2 linked regions of the Homo sapiens genome follow. The protein of the gene in region 1 purifies or fractionates together with the protein of each later gene. This does not show direct contact. Each region holds a gene or a part of one and is shown on either strand. Other genes may lie near its edges.

Region 1 (7,027 bases):
TGGTGAAACCCCGTCTCTACTAAAAATACAAAAAATTAGCTGGGCGTGGTGATGGGTGCCTGTAGTCCCAGCTACTCGGGAGGCTGAGGCAGGAGAATGGCGTGAACCCGGGAGGCGGAGCTTGCAGTGAGCAGAGATCCCGCCACTGCACTCCAGCCTGGGCAACCAAGCGAGACTCCATCTCAATAAATAAATAAATAAATACCCTTAATGACAGGCATCATGTTGGAGAAAAAGATTACAATAGGTAAAATTCCACAGAGTACAAATTCAACTGAGAATGGTCCACAGTTCGGGAACAGAAGCAGTAACCACAAACTGGAAATCATTTTACCTATTCTTCTACCTTATAATAATGAGAACATTCTCCCTAGTGTTTTATATCTTATAAAAGCACTTTAACATAATCTTATTTAAATATAATTAAGATTCTTCTGAATCATGAAGGTTTAAAAAAATTTTTCAATTTACTCAAGTTCATCAAATAAAGAGGTCTTCTTGTTTTATTTATTTAAATTAAACTAGCCTGGAAACAGAAACAAACAATTGAAAATTCTCTACCGGAAACTGTCTCCCATTCACAACTGTATCACTTGCTCCTATTTACTGCCTCTAAATAACGCTACCTAGTTTCATTCAATTGAGGATTTGAACAAGGAAAGAGCTGCAACTGTTGTACTACTTCCTGTTGCAGAATTAACCAGTCATTTCCAATCTTCTTCCATTTTAGGATATTTCCCTTCCAAAGTGCTGTCCAAAGAGAGAGCAACTTCTGTTCCACTATTCCTAGACAATTTTCCTAAATCACTTAAACCAATTTTCCTTCATTTACTTAGTTTGCATTCTTCAAAAGCCCATTCTATTTCCTGTACCCCACTCCTCCTTCATGCCCTTACGTACTGTTTTGTTGGGTAAAAATACTCTTATCTTTCTGTAAAGATCAATTATCTAGTCTTAAATAGTTCTTGTGGTTTTTCAAAGGTGCCCTTCATTTGAAGAACCCTTTTGTGCTGCCCCCAAGTCTCGCAGAGATGAAAAAGGCTGTTGTCCTTCTCCTCATTCTGTGTACACCTCCATCTCCCTGTCACCCAAATAAGTGTCAGTTTTTATTAGTCTATAATAAATAACTTCTTATCAGCATCAAATTTCTATTATCACCATTCCTAGTCTCTTGCAGCTTTTTCCTCCATCCTGCCCTCTTCCTTGAAAGTTTGAAATTATTTTAACTAAAAACTATCTTTGACTATTGTTATTTCCCAAACACAAAACAGTTGTTCAAGACTAAACAGCACTGAATCCATGCCCCAGATAGATAGATAGATAGATAGATAGATAGATAGATATACAACTGTTGGTCTTGGGGAAAAAGTCTTAGGAATTAAAAACAAATCACTTTTCTTAACCTTGGGCATTAACAAATAACTGAATTCCAGCTTTAAAAAATTTAAAATATCTCTCTCTACACACACACAGTTCAAGAGAACTAATGCCATATGCTTCAGTGTTTTATCAAACCAACATTCTGTGGGACAGTTTGTTCAGTCTTTGGCTGACAGCACAGCCAGAATTATTCTTCAAGGCTGTTTTTTTTTTTTTTTTTTTTTGAGATGGAGCCTTGCCCTGTCGCCCAGGCTGGAGTGCAGTGGCACGATCTCGGCTCACTGCAGCCTCTGCCCCCCAGGTTCCAGCAATTCTCCTGCCTCAGCCTCCCGAGTAGACTAGCTGGGATTACAGGCGCACGCCACCACTCCTGGCTAATTTTTGTATTTTTAGTAGAAACTTGGTGTCACCATGTTGACCAGGCTGGTATCGAACTCCTGACCTCAGGCGATCCACCCGCCTTGGCCTCCCAAAGTGCTGGGATTACAGGAGTGAGCCACCGCGCCCGGCTAAGGCTGTTAATACCACTTTTTGTATCAGTAAGATCATGGCTGGCTGTCACAAGACTGCTAAGAAACCACAGCCCTTTGGGCAAAGCACAGCCTGTTGGCCTGCCGAGGTCACAGAAACCTCACAGCATAGCACACTGCTGCCTCCTCTGGCTGTTAGAGCAGGACATACCTCTTCGTAATTTTTCGCCTCCACTCCATGCTTCATGTCTAGGATCACGAGTTGGTCAGGTATCCGCCCTGTTCCTGAGAAAGAAATCAAAGGAATCATTGTGTGAAATACTTAAAATTCTGGGAAATTACCCACCCACCCGCCCGCCCTCCCTCTACAGAACCCCTACCCTCTCAATAGAGGGAAACAGCCACAACTCCTCCCCCTGCTCAGTTGCAGAAAATTCCTGGCTCTGGCTAAAATCACAAACATTCCAGACAAAGCCTCTATCTGTGTGGGGTGCCGGAAAGCAACAAGAACATGCTGCTGGCAAACATCTCTGAGCAGGCAAGGACACAAGATACTGCAACTGGTACTACAGAGGAACAGAACAGAAGGGAAACCACACAGGCTTATTGAATTGGGAAATAAAACTCAAAAATCAAAACAGTGTGAAATTGAGTGGCATATAAATCAAGAGATAGTAGGCAACAACTTCGGCTGAAAATGTGTATTTCCACATCTGAAAAGGTTGCCCTGTCAAATTTTGAGGGAAGGCCATGATGAATTAGGATTATTGGATATGTGCTAAGCTTGGATTTACTTAATATAAATCTGAGTACTGAAAAGAACATAAGTTTTATCTAATATTCCACTTTAATTCAAACATTTTGATCAATGTATGGCCTAGTTCAGTAGGAGTACAATGTCATAGAGCTATTCCCACTAAGCCCTTAAAAGAGTTACAACAGCTCAAGGAAAAAAAAAAAACAACTTTAAGTGTTCAAATCTCAGGGATGCTTCTTATAATAGAGTTCATGTTAGAAGAGTCAATCTGATTCAGCTGGATCAAAGAAGCATTCTAATCTTAAATCATCAAGTAGGAGAAAGGAAAAGACCCAAGGAGCCCCAGAAAACTGTTCAGCCCCAATCCCCTGGAATTCACCTAGTTATAAAATTTACAACTGCCTGCATGAAATTAGAAGTTGTGGGAAACAGTGCCACTGAAGCACTGGGGTTCCTGAAACCATAAGCCACACTGAATGGTACTGTACCCTCTGATGCCTGAGAGACACTGGAAGTTTTCTGAAATGAACTGAAGTCAATTCAATAACTACTCATTGAAAACTCACTAAGTACTAAAACTGTGCTGGAGATTTTAAAGAGATATGCTACGGCTTCGATGTGCCCCTCTCAAAGTTCATGTGTTGGAAACTTAATCCCCAATGCAACAGTGTTGAGAGGTAAAACCTTTAATTTTATTTATTTAATTAAAAAAAATTTTTTGAGACAGGTTCTTACTCTTGTCTTCCAAGCTGGAGTGCAGTGGCACGCACCATCATGGCTCACTGTAGCCTCGAACTCCTGGGCTCAAGCAATCCTCCCACTTCAGTCTTTCAAGTAGCTGGGACTACAGGCGTGAGCCACCACACCCAGGTAATTTTTGTATTTTTTGTAGAGACAGGGTCTCGCTATACTGTCCAGGCTGATCTGGAACTCCTGGGCTCAAGCGATCCTCCTGCCTCAGCCTCCCAAAGTGCTGGGATTATAGGCATGAGCCACTGTGCCTGGCGGAGAAGTAGGACCTTTAAGAATTGACTAGGTCATGGGGCTCTGCCCTCATCAATAGATTTAATGTCATTATCATAGAAGTAGGTTTGTTATAAAAGTGAGTTCAGCCCCTTCTTGCTCTCCTGTGCATTCTCTTGCCATGTGATACCTTCTGCCATGTTATTGTGACACAGCAAAAAGGCCCTCACCAGATGTGGCCCCTTGATCTTGGACTTTCCAGACTCCAGAACCATGAACCAAACAAATTTCTACTGTTTATACCCACTCTGCGATGTTCTGTTATAGCAGCACAAAATGGACTAAGCCAGGATACAATCCCTGCCTTCAAATAATTCAATTGGGATCTAAGACATATACACAAAACAACTATGGTGAAAATGCAAAGCACTGTAAAAGTTTAAGCCAAAGGAACTGGTTCAGACAATTCCAATATGGAGCAAAGGGAAGAGGAGAGAAGATTGTAGTTGTGGACAGACTTCACTAAAAAGGGAACACCTAAAGGCAGGACTTAGGCAAAGTACTCTAGGCAGACGGCAAAGCATGAGCAAAGGCTCAGATATTAAAATCGGAGTATGGCATGCTTGAAAGACAGTAAAGAACTTCTTTTGGGATGGGCACGGTGGCTCATGCCTGTAATCCCAGCACTTTGGGAGGCCAAGGCAGGTGGATCTCTTGAGGTTCGAGTTCGAGACCAGCTTGGCCAACATGATGAAACCCGTCTCTACTAAAAATACACAAATTAGCCAGGCGCAGTGGTGCGTGCCTGTAGTTCCAGCTACTCCGGAGGCTGAGGCATGAGAATCACTTGAACCCGGTAAAGTTGCAGTGAGCCAAGATCGCACCACTGCACTCCAGCCTGGGTGACAGAGCAAGACTCTTGTTTCACACACACACAAAAAAAGGACTTCTTTTGGATAGACTGGAAAGATTAACTCGAAAGCAAGAGAAATATAAATAAGACTGCACAGGGTAAGACTGAGAACAAAGTAAGACAAGTCACATGTGTCTTCTGAGCATGAAAACAACAAGTCTTCAAACAAAACAAAACAAAATGTGGCACCCAGAGTGTTCTGTTCTCCCAAATCCAATGTGTAATCCTGATTACGACATTGTCCATGGAAGATGTACTTCCTCATTGAAAAAGTTGTGAAACTTAAGCAGTTCACAGCCCCACCTGGTCCAAATGATCAGGATATCTTCTTTCTTACAAGGTCTTCCAACTACCTCCCTGATTGTCACAGCACAGTACAGTCATGCACTACATGAAGACAGTTCAGTCGAGGACAGACTGCATATATGAAGGTGGTCCCATAAGATTATTATAATACTGTATTTTTACTATATCTTTTCTATGTTTAGATACACAAATAGCATTGTGTTCTAACTGCCTACAGTATTCAGTACAGTCACATGCTTTACAGCTTTGTAGCCTAGGAGCAGTAGTAGGCTATACCATATAGCCGAGGTGGGTAGTAGGCTATAACATCTAGGTTTGTGTAAGTACACTTAATATTTGCACAACGAAATCACCTAACCACCATTTCTCAGAATGGTCGAGTCCAGACTATACAGTCTCTTGCATAGAACTGTCAGCCTATCCTCTTAGCTGACATCATAGCCCTAAAGAGTCTCCTTTGTAAAAGGACCCTTCATAATTTTTCTCTCTGCATTTGCCTGGCAAACAGACAATCCTTTTTGTTTGTTTTGAGACAGAGTCTCGCTCTGTCACCCAGGCTGCAGTGCAGTGGTACGATCTTGGCTCACTGCAATCTCTGCCTCCTGGGTTCAAACAATTCTCCTGCCTCAGCCTCCCGAGTAGCTGGGATTACAGGCATGTGCCACCACCACATCTGGCTAATTTTTGTATTTTTAGTAGAGATGGGGTTTCGCCATGTTGGCCAGGCTGGTCTCAAACTCCTGGCCTCAGGTGATCCGCCCGCCTCGGCCTCCCAACTGCTGGGATTACAAGCGTGAGTCACTGCGCCCGGCCAGTTTTTTTTGTTGTTGTTGTTGTTTATTTTTTTGAGATGGAGTCTCACTCTGTCACCCAGGCTGGAGTGCAGTGACACAATCTTGCTCACTGCAACCTCCACCTCCTGGGTTTAAGTGATTCTCCTGCCTCAGCCTCCTGAGCAGCTAGGGTTACAGGCACGAGCCACCATGCCCAGCTAATTTTGTATTTTTAGTAGAGACAGGGTTTCACCATGTTGGCCAGGCTGGTCTCAAACTCCTAACCTTCAGTGATCTGCCTGCCTTGGCCTCCCAAAGTGCTGGGATTACAGGCATGAGCCACCATGCCCAGCCTTTTTTTTAAGACTTCACTTTGTTAGAGCAGTTTTAGGTTCACAACAAAACTGAGAGGAAGGCACAAAGATTTCCCATATCCCCCTTCCTCTTACATATGCATAGCCTCCCCCATTATCACCATTTCCCACCAGAGTGGTACATTCATTACAAATGATGAACCTACATGGACACATCACTATCTACCAAAGTCCACAGTTTACATTAGGATTCACTCTTGGTGTACATTCCAAATGTAATGTTCGGACAACCATATAATGACATGTATCCACTATTACAGTATCATACAGAATATTTTTACTGCCCTAAAAATTCTCTCTGTTCCACCTATTCAATCTTTTATTCCATGTAGTCGACCTTTTAAAAGGTGCTCCAAAGACTACAAGGTAACAGGTCTCCAAATCAGAATAAATAAAGAATACAAATGAAACTAGATATTAAGTGCTGACTGTATTAAGGAGCATTAGAGTTGGAGAAGATTCTTAATCCAGAGAAACACTCTTGATTACTCACCCTTGCTCTCAAAACACACTTCAAACATGTCATAATCTTCAGTGGTAAAGGCAAATTTCCCCTTGGTTGCATCCTCTTTGGAGTAGAGAATATGGCCAGCAGAATCTGTGATCTAAAATAAGAAAAGTAGTAAGAATAGGCAGCAAATAACACTCAGGAAGAGAACTTACAGAAACTGGGAAGATAGAGACACTATCTATGAAAGACAATTGATAGTTCTCATTATGATGACTATGTTCCAACCATCCCCAAAGACAAAAACTGGATTAGAAGATTAAATCCAAATACAGCAAATTTCATCCATTCAAATAGCCTAATCACACTGTGGGCTAAAATCTGTTGCTGCTATAGGATGTCTTACCATACCAAAAAGTTAATCTAGCTAATGCTCCAAGTTACATACATTGGATTTATTGGCAAAAACTCACTAGTATCATTCCGCATAGAGGAACATGTCACAAAAATGAAAGTAGACAATTATCAAAAGATTATACAAGAGGGACAAAGATATATAAAAACACATTTATTCTATAAAACAAATTTGATGGGGAAGGGGTGTGGGTGGAGAATAAAATTAGGACACACAATACAAGGACAG
Region 2 (7,027 bases), on another chromosome or scaffold:
ACTCTGTACTTCAGCTGGGCTGGTGGAAGGCTGAGCTGCAGACCTCTGCTTCCCTTCCTCTGACTTTCGAAATTTCTCCAGCTCATTCCACAGGTGATCTCTCTCATTCTGCAGACTGGCCATAGCCTTGGAAAAGGACTGCACTTGGTTATAAGAATCTTCTAGTTGTGAGGACAAGTGAAGCAATTGCTCATCTTTGGATAGGAGCTGTTGGTTAAGTTTCTCAAGGTGAGACAAGCTATTCTCCTCAGTGGAGTTCATTGAAAAGGCGGTTTCAGAAAGAAGAGCATCTCTCTCTCTGTTTAAGAGTCCCTGTTCTTTCAACTGTGCCAATTCCTTCAGACTGGCATCATATTTCCTTTTCAGTTCATCAAGTTCCTCATTGGCATGATCTCTACTATTTTGCAAGGAACTCATAGACCTTCCAAAAGACTGAATTTGTGCTGTGAGACCTTTATTTTCTTTGGTGACCATGAGTAATTTCTGTTCCATCTCCACCAAATCTCTTGCTAGCTCTGCCACTCTCTCTTCTGCTGTTTCAGTTTCATTTCTCATTATCCCTGCATCATGATGAAGATGCTTTAATTCTTTCTTCAGTTTATCTTCAATTTCACCTACCTTCTTGGCAGCTTCCTTTTGAACACAAACCAATTCTTCTTCCAGTTCTGCAATTCTCTTTTGAGAGGAGGAAAACAAAGCACTTAACCTGTGTACCTCTTCTTCTTTTACTTTTAACTGGGCATGATAGAGTCCTAAAGTACCTTCTTCTTGCAAGGCTGTTACTTGTCTTGTTAGCTGGGATATAGATACTTTCAAACTCTCAATCTCTTTAGATAAATCTTGTTTCTCTTCTTGTAGGGCATTAAAGGACCTCCGCAGATCCTCATTTGCTTCCTCAGATTCCTTCAGCTTTTCTTCTAATTTAGCATATTTATTTTCCAGCTCCTTATTTTGCTGAAGTTGAACTTCAAGAAGCTGCTTTTGTTGGCTGTCCTTTATTGTTATCACTTGGTTCAGGTCTTCTCTATATTGGATCAGTTCTGCATCTAGCTTGGCATTCTCAGAATTGAGATCATCCATATGACTTCTCAAGCCTCGTATTTCTTCTTTAAGCTTATTATTCTCTGCAGCAGCCTCTTGGATGAGTTGGTCTTTTTCCAAGATTATAGAGAGATGTCGCTCTTCCAGCTGTTGATAGTCACCCACTATGCGGTCTCGATCATTTTGGAGAGAAGACATGGATTTAACAAAGGAATCCAACTGTGCCTTTTGCTGAATGTTTTCCTTTTTGATGGTTTTCAGTGTTTCCATAAGCTGATTGGTTTTATCAACAGCCTTTTTGTTCTCCTCTTCTAAAACAATATTCTCCTCTTCCTCCTGGGACAGCAGGTTTTCCAGCTCTTTAATTTCTTTATCATGTTGCTGACGCAGTTCAGCAATAGCTACTTGGATTGCCTCTTCCTTGCCAGAAAGCAGGCTTATAATCTTTTGCTCTTTCATATTTATTTCTTCATGCAGCCTACTGGTCAGTTCTCTGGAGGCCTGAAGATCAGTCTCCAGTTGTTCATAACTGAACTTAGAATTTTGAATATCAGCCTCTTGCTGCCTTATGATCCCTTCCAAGTTTCCTTTTTGTTCCTTACATTTTTCTAAAGAGTTACTTAAATCAGTCAACTGGTCTTTGAGACTCTTAAGTTCTGATTCCAACTTAGCTAATTCATTCTGAGAACTGTGGTATAGGTGGCGTGTCTCTTCTAGCTGGGACAAAAGTTCTTTGTTTTCCCCCTGTAGAGTATCACAGACCTTCTGCTGAAGCTGGACCTCTGTCTGGGCCTTGGACTCCCAAATCTGCTTGTCATGTTCAAGCCTGAAACAGAGAGAAGGTCATTAGTTACAGATTTCAAGAAAAAAACTGTGTTTCCCAAGGAACAAATACTATAACATGTACTCAATAGATTTACAAATGAATTAACATTCATAACAGGTGTTAAATATTTTACTGAAGAGGTATTAATTCTCTGCACCTACATGTTTATCTACTGAGTGCTATGTATTAAAGGTATATCATACTTAAGGGTTCATATATTTAAGTCATAAACTCCAAAATATGTCACTTATTTTAGTGACATGGTTTTCAACACTGAAAAGTAACATTTTCTCCTATTTTATTCTACTTTGCTCCAGACAAGCTAACGTTTGGCTTCTCTAAGGGATAATCTTGATATGAAAGACAGTGAGAAAATCTGTTTTAGAACAGAAGGGTCCTATTGGAAGTAAGGAATACAAAGGATGAGAGACATTATTAGTTCTATAGATTAAAAAGTGACAGAAAATTGAAATTTGAGAAAAAATAACTCTAAGAGGTATATGCAGTATGAATTAATGTGGACTAAAGGAAGAAGAAAAGACGAGACTAGACAATTAATTTGAGAGTACTGTGGTAAAAATCCAGGCAAGAGTAGTTGAAATGGAAATGAAAAGAAATACAGAGGCCAGGTGCAATGGCTCATGCCTGTAATCCCAGCACTTTGGGAGGCCGAGGTGGGTGGATCACCTGAGGTCAGGAGTTCGAGACCAGCCTGGCCAACATGGTGAAACCCCCTCTCTACTAAAAATACAAAAAATTAGCTGGGCGTGTTGGTAGGCTCCTGTAATCCCAGCTACTCGGGAGGCTGAGGCAGGAGAATTGCTTGAACCCAGGAGGCAGAGGTTGCAGTGAGCCAAAATCGTGCCATTGCATTCCAGCCTGGGTGACAAGAGCAAGACTCCATCTTAAACAAAACAAAACAGAAGTACAGAAATCTCTCAATAGAAAGATGGGAAGAGAAGATGCGAACTTTTCATGTTCATGCAGTTGTAGCAGGATTGTTGTTTGCCAAAAAAAAGTCAGAAGTGAGAGAGAATATATCTTCCATGGACATTTATGCCAAAATTAGTCCCATTGTCTAAAAGGAAACAGAAATAGTTTAGAGACTTTCTTTGCTTGAAGTTACCTCTGGAGGAGGAAAAATTCACTACTCATTTACCTGGAAATGTTAATCTTTAATTCTTCCATATGGATGGACATCTGTCTAAGTTGATCCTTTAGAACACTGCAATTATCTTCTTTGAGTCTAATTTCTTCTTCTTTGCTTTGAATCGCATCACTAAACTTCCTCTCCCATTTCTTAGCTTCATCTATCACCCTGTCACGATCATCCTGGAGGGAAGACATGCTCTTAGTAAAGGCTGCAAGCTGGGTCACAGTACTGTCCAAGTTTTCCTGAAGTTGCTGAACTTCCTTGTCTTTCTTGTTCAAAGTAACCTGAATCTCTCCAATTGTCTCTTCCAAGTGGACTTTTTCTCTGCGCAAAGCATCCAGTTTCTCTTGCATATTCTTCTTCTCTTTCAGGTGCTTCTCTTCTGCCTGTTCCAGTCTTCGCTCAAGATCTTCATCCTTTTGTTTCATCTGGCTTTTAACTGATTCTTTATTTGACTGAAGTTCCTTTTTCAACTTGAGATTGTCTGCTAGGACCCTTGCTGCTTCACTTTGAGTGTCATCTAGCAGGACTTTGAAGCTAGCTAATTCTGCTTGTGCCTTTTTGCGGTGTTCAACTGCTTGAGCCAGATTTTCTTTGGTTATTTCCAAATCTTTTTGAGATTCAGTTTGAACAAATTCTAGAGCTTTAACAGTTCTCTCCAGAGCACTAATTTTCTCTTGATACCTGATGCAGTCCTTCTGTAGCTGCTTTACTTCTTGTTGTTTTTCTTTTAACAGTTCCTGAAGTTCCTTTGCATGGCTTTTATTTCCGGGTTCTTTCTGAGCACCTTGTATTTTCTCCAAATATTCCTTTCGTATTTCTGATTCCACCTTAGTTTTTTCCTTGACTAACTGCTGCTTTTCTTCTTCCAATTCACTCACACACTTTTTAAGGTTCTTCATTTCAGATTCCAATAGCTCATTTTTTATTTGGGCATCTGTAACATCCTGACAGTAATTCCCAATGCTTCCATTAAGTTCTGCTAATTGATTCATAAGCCTCTCTTCCAAATCATCTTTCTCTTCTTCTGCTGTCTCCTTTAGTTTGGTAACTCTGGAGAGTTCTTCTTGGATTTGCTGATTTAACAGGTTCATTTTGGTTACTTCCTCCTGAAGCATTTTTAGTTCACCATCCTTTGTTGATATCTGACTCAGTAAGGTATTTTTCTCATTTTCTAAAGTCTGGCTAAATTCCTTGTTTTTCTGCTTCTCCTCCTCTAATCCAGCAATTCTTTCTTTGAGCTGATCAATCTGCTGTAGGTAGTTATTAATTTCATCATGTGAGCTGAAATCCTTACTTACAGCAGGGTTGGCACTCTTCGCTGATGGAACCGATTCTGAACATGTAGGTCTTGTGCTCATACTCAGAGAGTCTTGCTCTTCAGTCTCACCTGGTATAGACTGTGTTCCCTCTTCAGTGACATTCGTTTGGTTATCATGTTTCTCGGTGGCCTCTAGGTTAGCTTGTTTAGATACATTACCTTCTATCTGATGCTTTAAATCTTGAACCTCTTCACTTAGAGAGTCTTTCTCAGACATTAAAGACTGAAACTTCTTAGAAAGGGTTTCATACTCCATTTTGACCCTTTCAAGTTCTTCCTTCATGCTGGCATTGGAAGAAAGAAGTGTTTCCATACACTCTTTAGCTGTATCTCCTGCAGGGTGCACCTCTGCCCTAAGCCGGTCATTCTCTTCTTCCAGCTCTAGGATTTTCTGCTGTTTAGATTTAGCAAACTTTCTCATCTTTTCTTTCATTTCCTCCATTTCTTGCTCAGCTTCCTGCAACTGCTTTTCTGTCTCCTTCTTGTTTGCCTCTGTGCTTCTTAACTTGCCATACAGTTCTTGTTTCTCTTGCCTCACAGCTTCCACCACATGCTGAATCCTTTCTGCTTCATTACTAACATTCTCATAGGACTGCAGAAGAATTTCATACTCTTTTTGTAGCTCCTTGTGTTTCTCTTGCCACTCAGTACTTTCTGCAATCTTAGAAGATTTCAAAGATTCAATTTCCTTCACTAACTTTTCCTTGTCTTCAGTAAGACCCTCTAGAGCTAGTTTTAGACTTTCACAGGAGCTGCTGAGACTCTGATTTTCCAATAAAGACCTGTCCATTTCTGTAATGAGTTTGTCTCTTTCTTCTTGAAGAAGAGCTAACCTTCCTAAGACCGTATCTTTTTCTTTATTTTGAGCAGAAACTTGGCTTTCCACATCTGCCAGAGACTTGGTGAGACGTTCAATGGTACCTCTGGCCAAAGACAATTCCTCTTGGAGACTTTTGTTTTCTTTTAGTGCTTCTTTTCGGGAAATAAGGGCAGCTTGCAGTTTCCTTTGTATTTGTTGCTTTGCTCTACTTTCTTCTCCAATCTCTTCTGGTTTTTGCTTCATTTCACAAAGTTCCACCTGTAGCTGCTTTATCCTCTCATCATGCTCTTTGGCTTGCATTTCTAGCTGTGTATGCAGAGCCTTAATTAAATCTTCTTGTTCTATTATCTCTGTCTGTATTTTAGTGAGAGCTGCTTCTTTCTCACTAAGTTGTCCAGAAAGGTAGCTAACGTCTTCTTCCTTTTTGCTTATGAGTTTTTGCAGTTCATCCAGTTTAGGTTGCAATTCTCTTAGATGTTCTAGGCCAGCAATTTGTAGTTGGCTGCTTTCCAATTTCTGCTGCAGGCTTTCGGCATGGACTTCAGCTTCATGGGATACTGTCTTTAGACTCTCGATTTCTAAACCCTGTTTATTTATCTGCTCTTGTAACTGAAATACCTCTTCTGATTTTTTAGTAAGCTCACTTGTTGTAGAACTAACTTTCAATTCTAACTCTACTTTCTCAGCCTCTATTTCCTTCAGCTGGGCCTTAATCTGGGCAACAGAAGTTCCGCCCTGCAGAGCACTCGCATCTTCAGAATGAGAAGGCCAGTCTGGGCACAAGTTGGACTCTAAAACAGGTTGAGTGTGATGCTGTTCTGTGGCTTTGAATAAAGGTTCTTCTAAACCTGGAGTGGAAGAACACGATTCCTGCTGGTCTGTGCTTGGGAGTTTTCCGTCTATGGATTCCCTTACTTGAATCTGGAGTTGCCTTAGCTGGTCTCCAATATTCTCATTTTCCTTGCTTTGCTCATCAAACTGTTCTTGCAAGCGATTATAGTCATCTTTCTGTTGCTTTAGCTCCTCCCTGAGATGTCTTTCTTTCTCCTGTGCCTTTTTAAGAATTGCCTTGCGGGAGGTTAAGGCTTCCTGTAGCTTCTTTTGAAGTTGCTCCTTTTCTTTTTCAAGGGCCAGTATCTTTTCTTCTAGTTCTGGTTTCCAGTGTTCACTACTACCTGTACAAGGTGGACTTATCACCACTGTTTCCTTTACAAGTGCTACGGAGTCCCCATCACTTGCATCCGTGTTACTTGTGATTAACTTCTGGATAATTGCTTGGTTTTCACTGATTTCTGCTTGGAGCAAATCTATTTGGTTTGTTTTATCTTGCAAGGTCTGATTCATCTGTTTGACCAGAGCCTGGAATTGCTCTTCAGCTGCCAGCTTTTCTTCCAAATCCTTCCTTATATGCTGTAGTTCCACTTCTTTCTCAGATATTGTCTGTTTTAAATAAATTTCTATTTCTTGGCACTTAGAAGTCACACATTTTTCTGAGTATTCTTTGTTTTCTTTATCTTCTTCCACTTCTCCCCTCTCAGTCTCACTGAGTGGGATTTCTTTCTTAGATTCATCTTTCAAGTTGGCTAATTCTTCTTCCAATCTACTGACTCTTTGCAGAAGCTCCTTTCTGTTAATAAGAGCTGCCTGGAGCTTTCTCTTTCTCTGCTCATTTTCTTTCTTCAGAAGGTCAAATTCATGCTGAAGTTCTTCCTTACTTATTTGTCCTGCTGGGCTCATCTCATCATAATTTTGTTTAAGGCCAGAAGAAACTTCATTATCTTCTTCCACCTGCTCTTTTTTTGCTTCCTCAGCTCTGGATAATAAATTTAGCTGTTCTTTAAGAGTCTTAATTTCAACCCCAAGAGA

Evidence for each region. The genes of interacting proteins can lie anywhere in the genome.
Region 2: the proteins of TMED10 (region 1) and GOLGB1 purify together in Homo sapiens (affinity purification with mass spectrometry; 4 studies listed by BioGRID and IntAct, with this or other methods). This does not show direct contact.

Annotation. Positions count from the first base shown.
Region 1 is NC_000014.9:75,145,603-75,152,629, forward strand, and holds part of TMED10 (transmembrane emp24 domain-containing protein 10 precursor), read right to left. Parts: intron 6,542-7,027; coding exon 6,430-6,541; intron 2,136-6,429; coding exon 2,062-2,135; intron 1-2,061. UniProt on the Homo sapiens protein: Cargo receptor involved in protein vesicular trafficking and quality control in the endoplasmic reticulum (ER) and Golgi.
Region 2 is NC_000003.12:121,690,715-121,697,741, forward strand, and holds part of GOLGB1 (golgin subfamily B member 1), read right to left. Parts: coding exon 3,027-7,027; intron 1,868-3,026; coding exon 1-1,867. UniProt on the Homo sapiens protein: May participate in forming intercisternal cross-bridges of the Golgi complex.